Homo sapiens: one gene and its partners. The protein of the gene in region 2 purifies or fractionates together with the protein of the main gene of each other region. This does not show direct contact. Each region holds a gene or a part of one and is shown on either strand. Other genes may lie near its edges.

Region 1 (3,653 bases), on a different chromosome or scaffold from region 2:
TTCTGGCTTGTAGAGTTTCTGCTGAGAGATCAGCTGTTAGTGTGACGGGCTTCCCTTTGTGGGTAACCCGACCTTTCTTTCTGGCTGCCTTTAACATTTTTTCCTTCATTTCAACTTTGGTGAATCTGACAATTATGTGTCTTGGAGTTGCTGTTTTTGAGGAGTATCTTCATGGCATTCTCTGTATTTCCTGAATTTGAATGTTGGCCTGCCTTGCTAGGTTGGGGAACTTCTCCTGGATAATATCCTGCAGAGTGTTTTCCAACTTGGTTCCATTCTCCCCGTCACTTTCAGGTACACCAATCAGATGTAGATTTGGTCTTTTCACATAGTCGCATATTTCTTGGAGGCTTTGTTCGTTTCTTTTTATTCTTTTTTCTCTAAACTTCTCTTCTCACTTCATTTCATTCATTTGATCTTCCATCACTGATACCCTTTCTTCCAGTTGATCGAATCGGCTACTGAAGCTTGTGCATTCGTCATGTAGTTCTCGTGCCATGGTTTTCAGCTCCATCAGGTCCTTTAAGTACTTCTCTGCATTGGTTATTCTAGTTAGCCATTCGTCTAATCTTTTTTCAAGGTTTTTAACTTCTTTGCGATGGGTTCGAACTTCCTCCTTTAGCTCAGAGAAGTTTGATCTTCTGAAGCCTTCTTCTCTCAACTCGTCAAAGTCATTCTCCATCCAGCTTTGTTCCGTTGCTGGTGAGGAGCTGCATTCCTTTGTAGGAGGAGAGGCACTCTGATTTTTAGAATTTTCAGTTTTTCTGCTCTGTTTTTTCCCCATCTTTGTGGTTTTATCTACCTTTGGTCTCTGATGATGTACAGATGGGTTTTTGGTGTGGATGTCCTTTCTGTTTGTTAGTTATCCTTTTAACAGTCAGGACCCTCAGCTGCAGATCTGTTGGAGTTTGCTGGCGGTCCACTCCAGACCTTGTTTGCCTGGGTATCAGCAGCGGAGGCTGCAGAACGGGGAATATTGGTGAACAGCAAATGTTGCTGCCTGATCGTTCCTCTGGAAGTTTCGTCTCAGAGGGGTACCCGGCCATGTGAGGTATCAGTCTGCCCCTACTGGGGGGTGCCTCCCAGTTAGGCTACTCAGGGGTCAGGGACCCACTTGAGGAGGCAGGCTGTCCGTTCTTAGATCTGAAACTCCGTGCTGAGAGAACCACTACTCTCTTCAAAGCTGTCAGACAGGGACATTTAAGTCTGCAGAGGTTTCTGCTGCCTTTTGTTCGAGCTCTGAGCCTTTCTTCTGCTTGGAAGGCCTCACCATTCCCAGGCTGCTGTCTTAGTTCACTAATAGCCTCTTAATTTACCTTCCTGCCTCTAGTCTCTTCCCTGTTTTAGTACATTCTGCATGCTGCAGCTAGGATGACCTTCCTTGGCAAAACAAGCTACTCATGTCACCTGTTCCCACTCCCCACCCCCACCGCCCATAGCTCCCCCATTGCCTGTAGGGTAAAATCCAGACTTTGAGCTTGGCATGCAGTGAAAGTAGGTGACAGGTGACAGTCTTCATCCTGTTCTTACAGTTGCTGATTTCCCCTCACTCCACTAGAGGTCCTGACATTCTAAGAGTCTTGCTGTTCTCTAGACCTACTGGGCCCTGTCAAGACTAAGAACCTTTGCCTGGCCCTTCTCTCCATTTGGAATGCCCTCCCTTATTGCTCTAGCTGTCCAGTCCCCACCTCTAAGTCCTTCAAGAGCTGATCAAGGGTCACTTCCACACTGAATCCTTAGGTATTTTAGGCAGAGCTTGTTGTTTAAGCTCTCTGAGTTATCACAGGACTTTGTTCACAGCTTGGGAATAACAGTACTTAACTGTTCTTACTATAATGGATAATTTTATAAGTCTTCATCTCCCACAAGGCCCTAACTTTCCCCAGGAGAGTGATCATTGCTTATTTACCTTGCAGATTTTCAGCATTTGGCTCCTATCCGGGTACCTCAGGTTCCAAAGGTTTGGATTCATTCATTCCTTTAGTCATCAGATGCCCACTACTAGAGCCAGGCACTGTTCTAGATGCTGGAGCACAGCAGTGACTCAAACACACAGAATCCCCTGCCCTTGCATTCAGTTTCGGGGAGAGGAACAGACTCTAAATGTAATCTTTTTGACTATATCAGTAAGAAAATGATGTAGTATACTAAAGATGATAAATGCTATAAAAATGGAGCAGGAGGTGGCATGTTAGGAATTCTAGGAGTGGATACAGTTTTAACTAGGGTGGTTATGATAGAAATAGAAATGACATTTGAGCCAAAACTTAAAGACGAGACATAAATGAAAGAATGAGTGAACAAGTAAACCAACAGTAATTGTTTCTTCCCTTAGATTTTTCTTCTCCAGATTCAACATTTCCAGATCCTTTACCCATTTTGAGGAGACCTATTTTCTAGACTCCTCACTGCCTTGTATTACTTTTCCACTTTCAGATCTTAGGATCCAGACAGAAATGTCGATTTTTCATCTCTGGCATAGTGCTGTTTCAGCTTTGAGATTACTGAGCATTGTAGGAAGGAGGGCTCATGGGTCATAACTCATTGTCACATCATGACATCCCACTCTCGCTTTGATTGCCTCTAGGCGACTTGGGGCTTCTGCTGTGGCTCAGATCTTTTCACCACTGTCTTCTTTCTTCATCTAGTTCAGCACATGCTTATGTAGTACCATGTGCCAGATGCCGTGAGAGATGCTGGGGGCACCCAGATGAATGCAGCATGGCTCTGGCCACAGGCAGCTCCTGGTTGCTCTCCTATTCCTCATGGTGAAGTCATAGTATCGGCAAATTGTTATCTCAGACAAGGGTTCTAGAATCCAGCAATCTTATGCTGACATGTCCAACAGAGGCCTGCTCTATCTAGCTTCATACCAAGTCTTCCTGGATTTCCCTTGTTCTGGATACTCTTGTTTACCCAGGTCCAGTTGCCTGGCTCCTTGAGAAGTCTGTACTTACTTCCTTTGATGTTATGATTTTCCTTTATAACAAGTACAGGACATTCTTAGGCTGTAGGACAATTTGCCAAAAATCAGTTCACAGAATGACCACATTGCTATATTATTGATTCACCAAAAACTTGTTTCTGTTAGTTGCTGATGTTTAGAGCAACTTGTGTTTCACTGAAGCCATCCAGTATTTAATAGATTTTTAGGGAGTGATAACTTCTTGAGAATTTGATATTTCAAGTGTCATATATGTCATGAATGTCAAGGATTAGTTAATGTGGAGTGGGTTTATCTCTTCTAAGCACATTTTTAATGTATTCTACTGATTTTTAAAAAAATGAATTTGCTTTCTGTAGTGGGAGAGAAAGGGTGGAGTGAAAAGTTGAGAACAGGAAATGAAAAATTATGCCTGGGAATGTTTCCACTGGTATCTATGCATCTATCGTGTTTCCAGAAGTTAAAACCATGTTCAAGGGAGGTCTTGCTCATTTGCTTAGGAAGTATTAGCACTCTAGAGTGGCTTAGGTATCTGCAATGTGAAGTCATGTATGAAACTGACATTCAACTTAGCTGGATGACAAATCCATAAAAAATAAATGCACATTTGTGTTATATCATCTTGGTAGCAATTTGCATAAAGAATTCAGGTAAACCACAATGTGGGGGCAAAACTTTTAAAGTAATAGCAAGGGATGAGTGCTCAGTA
Region 2 (3,618 bases):
CTGCGCTCCAGCCTGGGTGACAGAGCGAGACTCCGTCTCAAGAAAAAAAAAAAAAGAACAGTATTCAAGCCGGGCATGGTGGCTTCCGCCTGTAATCCCAGCAACTTTGGGAGGCTGAGGCGGGTAGATCACCTGAGGTCAGGAGTTCAAGAACACCCTGGCCAACATGGTGAAACCCCATCTGTACTAAAGATACAAAAATTAGCCAGGTGTGGTGGCGCATGCGTGTAATCCTAGCTACTCAGGAGGCTGAAGCAGGAGAATTGCATGAATCCAGGAGGCGGAGGTTGCAGTGAGCCGACATCGTGCCACTGCACTCTAGCCTGGGCCACAGAGTGAGATTGAGTCTCTAAAAAAAGAATGGTATTCAGATATAGGTTGGGCAATGATTTTTTTTTTTAACAGATGAGGAAACTGAGGCACAATGCAGGCTTCTTGTCAGAAATAAAACCCAGGTCTCATCTCTCTCAGCCTCTGTGCTTTATACCAGTTTCAGGCAGAAGGCAGATTAGCTGCCCCTGAATCACTCTTCCATCCTCCCTGAGCCAGGCCATCAACATAGCATTAAAGAATAAAATTTGAGAAAGTCGTAGGGAAACAAGATTCATGTTTTATTTCCACAGAGAAACTCAAAAGTAGGAAGCTCCTCCTTCCTGGAGAACTGTCACAGTGACTTCAGGTCACCAAAGGGAGGAGGTACAGAAAGATGCTGGTGTATGTGACGAGGCTGGTGGCCACTGAAGCACCACAGTGCAGTGGGAAGAAACAAGGAGAGACAAGCTGGGTCCCCAGCCTAGGAAACAGAGGTGTGGCAGCCGGGCCAGGGCTGGCACAGGCTGGGGGCCAAGGGGAGGAGCTCCCTGACGACCAGTGCTTTTCGGGGCCTCGGTGGTGGTTGCAAGAAATTGCCTAGAAGAAAGAAAATCAAATGGTAGCACGTGGCCACTCCTAAGCCTGCGGAAACGGGGCATCTTTTCACCCAGCGTCTGGGCACCCACCATTCTTTTGCTGTCCTACCTGTTCGCCTGTGGTGCCCCTCACTTTTGCTCCGCCTAAAACAGAGTTTGTGGTTCTGCCGAGCCAAGCTATCACCTCTCGCCCATGCAGCCTCGCTGCGTCCCACCTCTGAACCCTTCCACCAGGAGGCTCTTTTCTCCACAGTTCCCCTGTAACATCTCTATCCCGGTCCCTGTGCTCCATCTAGAACACCATCTTCTCAGAGCTGTGCCTATGTGGTCCCACCCTAAGGTGCTTTCCGAGGGTCCTAGGTCATTTTCTTTCTTCTTTCTCTCTTGCTTGCTTTCTTTCCCTCTTTCTCTCTCTCTCTCTTTCTCTCTTTCTTTCCAGACAGGGTCTCCCTCTGTTGCCCAGACTTGGAGTGCAATGGTGTGATCATAGCTCACTGCAGTTTTGAACTCCTGGGCTCAAGCGATCTTCCTGCCTCTGCCTTCCAAGTAGCTAGAACTACAGGCATGTGTCACCATGCCTGGCTAAGGTTTTTCATTTGTTTGTTTGTTTGTTTTGAGACAAGGTCTCACTGTGATTGCCCAGGCTGGAGTGCAGCGGTGCAATCGCAGTTCGCAGCAGCCTCAACCTCCCAAGCTCAGGTGATTCTCCCACCTCAGCCTCCAGAGTAGCTGGGATTACAATCATGCACCACCTCACCTGGCTAATTTTTTGTATTTTTAGTAGACGGGGTTTTGCCATGTTTCCCAGGCTGGAATGGTTTGTTTTGTTTTGGTTTGTTTTGTTTTGTTCTTTTAGAGATGGGGTCTTGCTATATTGCCCAGTCTGGTCTCAAACTCCCAGACTCAAGTGATCCTCCCACCCCAGCCTCCCAAAGCACAGAGATTACAGGCATGAGCCACTGCACCCAGCCCTAGATCACTTTATTATGGGTCTTTCTCCACACCCCACCATGAGGTCCCCTCTTCCTTATCACCTTTAGAGCACGCACCCAGAGCATACCTGACTTCATGTCGCTGCCCACTGAGATCTGAGGATATACCAAGATCCTGGCCCTGCCCCGGGTGACTGTGCCTCCACTGCCAGGATGTGGCCTGGGTCGGCTCACTCTGACACTCACCTACCAAAACTTCACCCACTGCAGCAGGCCAGGTTGCACCCGGGAAGCCTGCCAGAAAAAGAGAAAGTCTGAGTGGCCACCACAGGGTCCCTTCCATACCCTCTGGCCTCAGGCCCCTTCTCTCTCCAGCCAGATGAAGATCAGGCCCCCATACTCACCGAGGAAGAAGGTGAGACTCCCCCCTGCAAAAAGATCAAAGGAAAGTGATGTGGGGTCATGGCCTCCCTGTACTCTGCCATGGCCTCCACGCTCATGAAGGGCCCAGCAGCAAGGGCAGGCTCACACCAGGGCTATCACCAAGGTTTTCCAGTCTGACTGTGGACATTCAGGCTGTGGAGTTGGTTTCACAGCACGTTTATCATCCTGAGTGCACTTGATCCAAGATGATATTGAACATGGTTCCTGGGCACGTACTGACCAAGGGGGTCAAAAGAGCATAGGCCTCGCTTTGGCCTGCCAGGTAGGGAGACACTGACCACAGATAACCCGGCAGAGTGGAAGCCACAGATAACTCAGCAGAGTGGAAGCCACAGGCAGTAGAAGCTGCATGTCCCTCCTCTCACCAGCCTGTAGTTTCTCGTCCCTCAGTGGAAGGTCCTCTCCCCAAGGGCGGGGACTTTATTGTCATGAGAGATGGAAATACACAGCCTGCTGTTGCTTTGTCAGCCAAATTTGTACTTAGCATATTCATTTACTGATGTTATGAGATTGCCTTCTTTGCAACGGAATAAAACCAAATTCTCACGTATTTTTTCTTTTCATTTCCTTTGTGGAATAAAGCATTCATTTCACCGCCAACCAGGCATCCACAGGCCGGCCTCCCCTAAGTGCTAGTCTGCTTTCCTCGCCCTCCATTCCATCTTCCCCCGCAAAAAAAGGTCCACAGAGAGGGAACCTGTGAGGAAGAGCTGCTTGCGTGTTTTGCAGGTGTCATGATTTTTTAAAGCCTATATTCTTCTTGGAGAGGGTGTTGGTTCTCAGTTTTCTCTGTTGCTGCTGCTGCTCCTTTTTAACCTTTTCTGACTGGGTGGGTGTGAGGCGCATTGAACCCTCCTGCCCTCCACTTCCAAACTGTCTCAGGGAACCCGAGTCTCCCTTGCAAAGGGGTGGGGAGGCCTGGACTCAAAGAGAGCGGGATCCGGCCTCCGGCAACCAACCGAGAGGACCCCGGCAGTGAAAGCCTCTCTCCCCATCCCTCATGCAGAGCCCCCAGCGGGAAGACAGGGTGGTTGCCGGTCTCACCTTTGCAGGGGTCTTGACTGAGTACTTCCCACCATAGGCAGTGGGATACGCATGCTGGTTGTAATTGTAGTTCTGTGGAAGAAGTGGGCATGGCGGTTAGAACAGACGGACGAAGGCCATTTTGCTCTGGAATAAACATCCCACCTTCCTGCCTGGACCAGACCTTTCCTAAAACACCTGCCTGCTCCCCTCCTTGTGTCACGTGTTTTCTTTTATACAATCTCCTCCAGCCAGCCAGGGCCCCCACCCTCACCTGCCTTTACTGTCCTAGCCCAAATGGCCGCCGCCTC
Region 3 (3,653 bases), on a different chromosome or scaffold from region 2:
AGCACTGTAGGAGGCCAAGGCTGGCAGATCCTGTATTAGTCCGTTCTCAGGCTGCTATAAAAGACATACCTGAGACCGGGTAATTTATAAAAGAAAGAGGTTTAATTGACTCACAGTTCAGCCAACTGGAGAGGCCTCAGGAAACTTACAACCATGGTGGAAGGGGAAGCAAACACGTTTTTCACATAGCGGCAAGAGAGAGAAGTGCAGTGAGAAGCAGCAGGAAAGCATCTTAGAAAACCATCAGATCTCACGAGAACTCACTCACTATCACAAGAACAACATGGAGGTAACCGCCCCCATGATTCACCTACCTCCCGGTGGGTCTCTCCCATGACACATGGGGATTATGGGAACTACAATTCAAGATGAGATTTGGGTGGGGACACAGCCAAACCATATCAGATCCCTTTGAGCCCAGGAGTTCAGATCCCTTCAGACCAATCTGGGCAGCATGGCAAAACCCCGTCTCTACAAAAAAAACGAAGAAATTTGCAAGGCATGGTGGTGCACACCTCTAGTCTCTACTACTTGGGAGGCTGAGGCGAGAGGATCACTTGAGTCCAGGAGGTTGAGGCTGCGGTGAGCCATGCTCGTGTCACTGCACTCCAGTCAGGGTGACAGAGGGAGACCATGTCTTGAAAAATAAATAAATAAATAAATAAGTGGAAATTATACGAAGAAAAATCATTAAAAATCTTAATTATGAAGGAAATTAGAAGTTCAAAGGAAGATTAGTGGGTTTATTGAAAGTGTAAATTTGTTTCATACTCACTGAATTCACCCAGCAGTCTCAAGGAAATATTTAACATCAACAAGTACTTATATATTGGTGCTGTATTAACTTTTAATTAGAAAGTCATGGTCTCTATCCAAAGAAATGTATATAATTAATACATTCCCAGTGTTAAATATAACCTGTTTTTTAGGTTAAGCAACTATTGCATAGCATTCAGTTGGTGTTATTGCCACATCTGCATTTAACTGGCTGTTTCTACAACTCTTACTACGTTGAATATAAAAGCTCACTGATCATGCAGATATATATATAATATATATACATATATACATATAAAATAAATAAATCCTAATGGAGTATTTAACTCTAGCTACACCTAGGACTATGAATATTCCTACAGATTTAAAAGATATTATTTGGAGCATATGTATGGAATGAATGTTTTCAAAACATGGGAATGCAAATGATCTTCATTCATAAATGAACTAATTGTTCTTAATGTTATTGAATATCATTTCCTAGTTACAGAGCTGGGGAAAAGAATTAAATCTATCTATCTATCCATATATCCATCTGTTATTATGTATCAGTTCTGGCTGTGCACATTTTTATATTTTCTAGATAAATGTTTTATTTTAGCCACATGGTGTTTTTTTCTTTTAAAAAAAAAAAGCAAAACTGGGTAATCAATTGTGAGAAAATGAAAAGGACCTTCCCATGCCACTATAAAAGTATGCCATATCTTGGCTCAGATCCAATTCTGCTGAATATTCATTAGTGAGTATACCTAAATGGCTTCATTGTCAATGTTTATCTGTAAAACCATATCTTTTCATTATTCGCATTATCATTAACAAATACACATGATGTGTATGATGAGTACAAAATAGAATACAACTATAATTGACTATCTGTAACGTAAAAATATGGAATTTGTATCATTTTATGTAAAACTACTGCATCATTAAGTATAAAGCTTCCTTCCCTTTTAATGTAAGTTTTAAAAACCAGTGTTACATACACAAATCTTTGCATTTGGTATTTTGTCCTAATTAGAGAAATCATATGATAATTACCCTACTTAACAAATGAATAGGCCAGGAGTAGTGGCTCAGCCTGAAATCCTAGCACTTTGGGAAGCCAAGGTGGTGGATTGCCTGAGCTCAGGAGTTTGAACCAGCCTGGCCAACATGGTGAAACCCTGCCTCTTCTAAAAAGACAAAATTATCTGGGCATGGTGACACATGCCTGTAATCCGAGCTACTTGGGAGGCTGAGGCAGGAGAATCACTTGAACACGGCAGGCAGAAGTTGCAGCGAGCCGAGATCGCACCACTGTACTCCAGACTGGGCAACAGAGCAGTCTCTGTCTCAAAATAAATAAATAAATAACTAAATAAAAATAAGGAGCAAATTCCTTTAGAAGTATAATTTATTGCTTATTCCAGCTTACTTTGGTGTGAACCAGGGAAGAGGAGAAGTTAGAAAAGAAGAAGAAACTGACAAACATGAAAACCTTAAATCTCTTGTCAACAAATATTGGAAGTGGCAGCAAAAAAATTGTATATAAACATTAGATATATGAAGCAAACATGTTTTTAAATCCAACCTTCATTATGAATATAAATATTCTATAACTTTCATTCCAAAAGAATCATGAGCATGTGAGAATCAATTTCTGCACAGCAGCAATGAAAAGTTATTGAAATAAATCACTTTGTCTTTTCTCTCAGGATTGACATCTTTAAGTATGTGATCTACGGCATCGCAGCTGCGTTCTTTGTGTATGGCATTTTGCTGATGGTGGAAGGTTTCTTCACAACTGGGGCCATCAAAGATCTCTATGGGGATTTCAAAATCACCACTTGTGGCAGATGTGTGAGCGCTTGGGTATGTTAGTTCTCTACATTCAGTATTTAATGTGGATTGATTTCAATAGCACACAGGTGTTTGCATTCATCTCCCAAGAATTAAAGTATTTTTTTTTCACACAGTAACGTTTCCTTCTGTGATGCTATCTTAAATCTTGATAACATTATTTTTGAAATTAAGATTATTCCTTGTGAAAATTCAGTTTCAAATACTCAGATTCTATGTAGCACAACTAGTTTTGTTTCTAGAGGTAGCAACACTGTTGATTGATGTATGGTTTTTTTTTTCCAAAGGGCTCTGTGATTCTCTTGAGAATCACAGAAAAATTCATCTCCAATTTATAAGCAATACATGTGCCTGTCTCCTGTTAAACATATGTCTCTGTATTTTACTGTAAATTTGAGGACAGCTATATCATATGATTTCTGTTTTCTATTAATTTAAGAATTCTATTAATTTCAGCATTAAATTTTAATTTATATAATATTTAATGGCAAATCAAACTTATAGTCTTACTCTACAGTTTTGTAATACAGACAATGCGTATCTATCTATTAATGCATGAGTGGTGAAAATGAAAAATAATAAGGTTGAAAGTACTTTTGCACTTTTATACAGAATAATTTTTCTAGAATGAAATGTTGAAGCTTCCATTCTTGACAGACATATTTTCCTTTTTTCTAATGTTATGTAACAACATGTGTCTAATTATAGCATATAATTCATGTTAAGTAAGCTGTCTCTAATAAGGACTGATGTAAATTACTTCAATCTCACAGAAATGTTCAAAAATGCCTGTTTACCAGCAAACCTTTTTTATTTTAACCTGTTTCTAACACATTTTATTATGCTTCTTGGTGTCAACAGCAACAATAATCTGATAAGATAGTTTGCCTGAGTTGTGGGTATTTGTAGTGGTCTCTGGAATTATTTCTTATAAGAATCATCTGTTTTTAGTTTGGGACAAAACTTATTGTAACACCCAAAGAGATAAAATATATGAGTAGGAGTAAAACTGGAATCCCAATAATGTGACTAAGGGG

The links.
Region 1: the proteins of DMKN (region 2) and GOT1 purify together in Homo sapiens (affinity purification with mass spectrometry; one large-scale study listed by BioGRID and IntAct). This does not show direct contact.
Region 3: the proteins of DMKN (region 2) and GPM6A purify together in Homo sapiens (co-immunoprecipitation; one large-scale study listed by IntAct). This does not show direct contact.

Annotation. Positions count from the first base shown.
Region 1 is NC_000010.11:99,410,114-99,413,766, reverse strand, and holds part of GOT1 (aspartate aminotransferase, cytoplasmic), read left to right. Parts: intron 1-3,653. UniProt on the Homo sapiens protein: Biosynthesis of L-glutamate from L-aspartate or L-cysteine. Important regulator of levels of glutamate, the major excitatory neurotransmitter of the vertebrate central nervous system. Acts as a scavenger of glutamate in brain neuroprotection.
Region 2 is NC_000019.10:35,496,630-35,500,247, forward strand, and holds the end of DMKN (dermokine isoform 2 precursor), read right to left. Parts: intron 3,401-3,618; coding exon 3,329-3,400; intron 2,269-3,328; coding exon 2,245-2,268; intron 2,135-2,244; coding exon 2,087-2,134; exon of another isoform or gene 1,969-2,086; intron 1,053-1,968; exon of another isoform or gene 1,018-1,052; intron 910-1,017; 3' UTR 591-909; downstream 1-590. UniProt on the Homo sapiens protein: May act as a soluble regulator of keratinocyte differentiation.
Region 3 is NC_000004.12:175,672,655-175,676,307, reverse strand, and holds part of GPM6A (neuronal membrane glycoprotein M6-a), read left to right. Parts: intron 1-2,471; coding exon 2,472-2,628; intron 2,629-3,653. UniProt on the Homo sapiens protein: Involved in neuronal differentiation, including differentiation and migration of neuronal stem cells. Plays a role in neuronal plasticity and is involved in neurite and filopodia outgrowth, filopodia motility and probably synapse formation.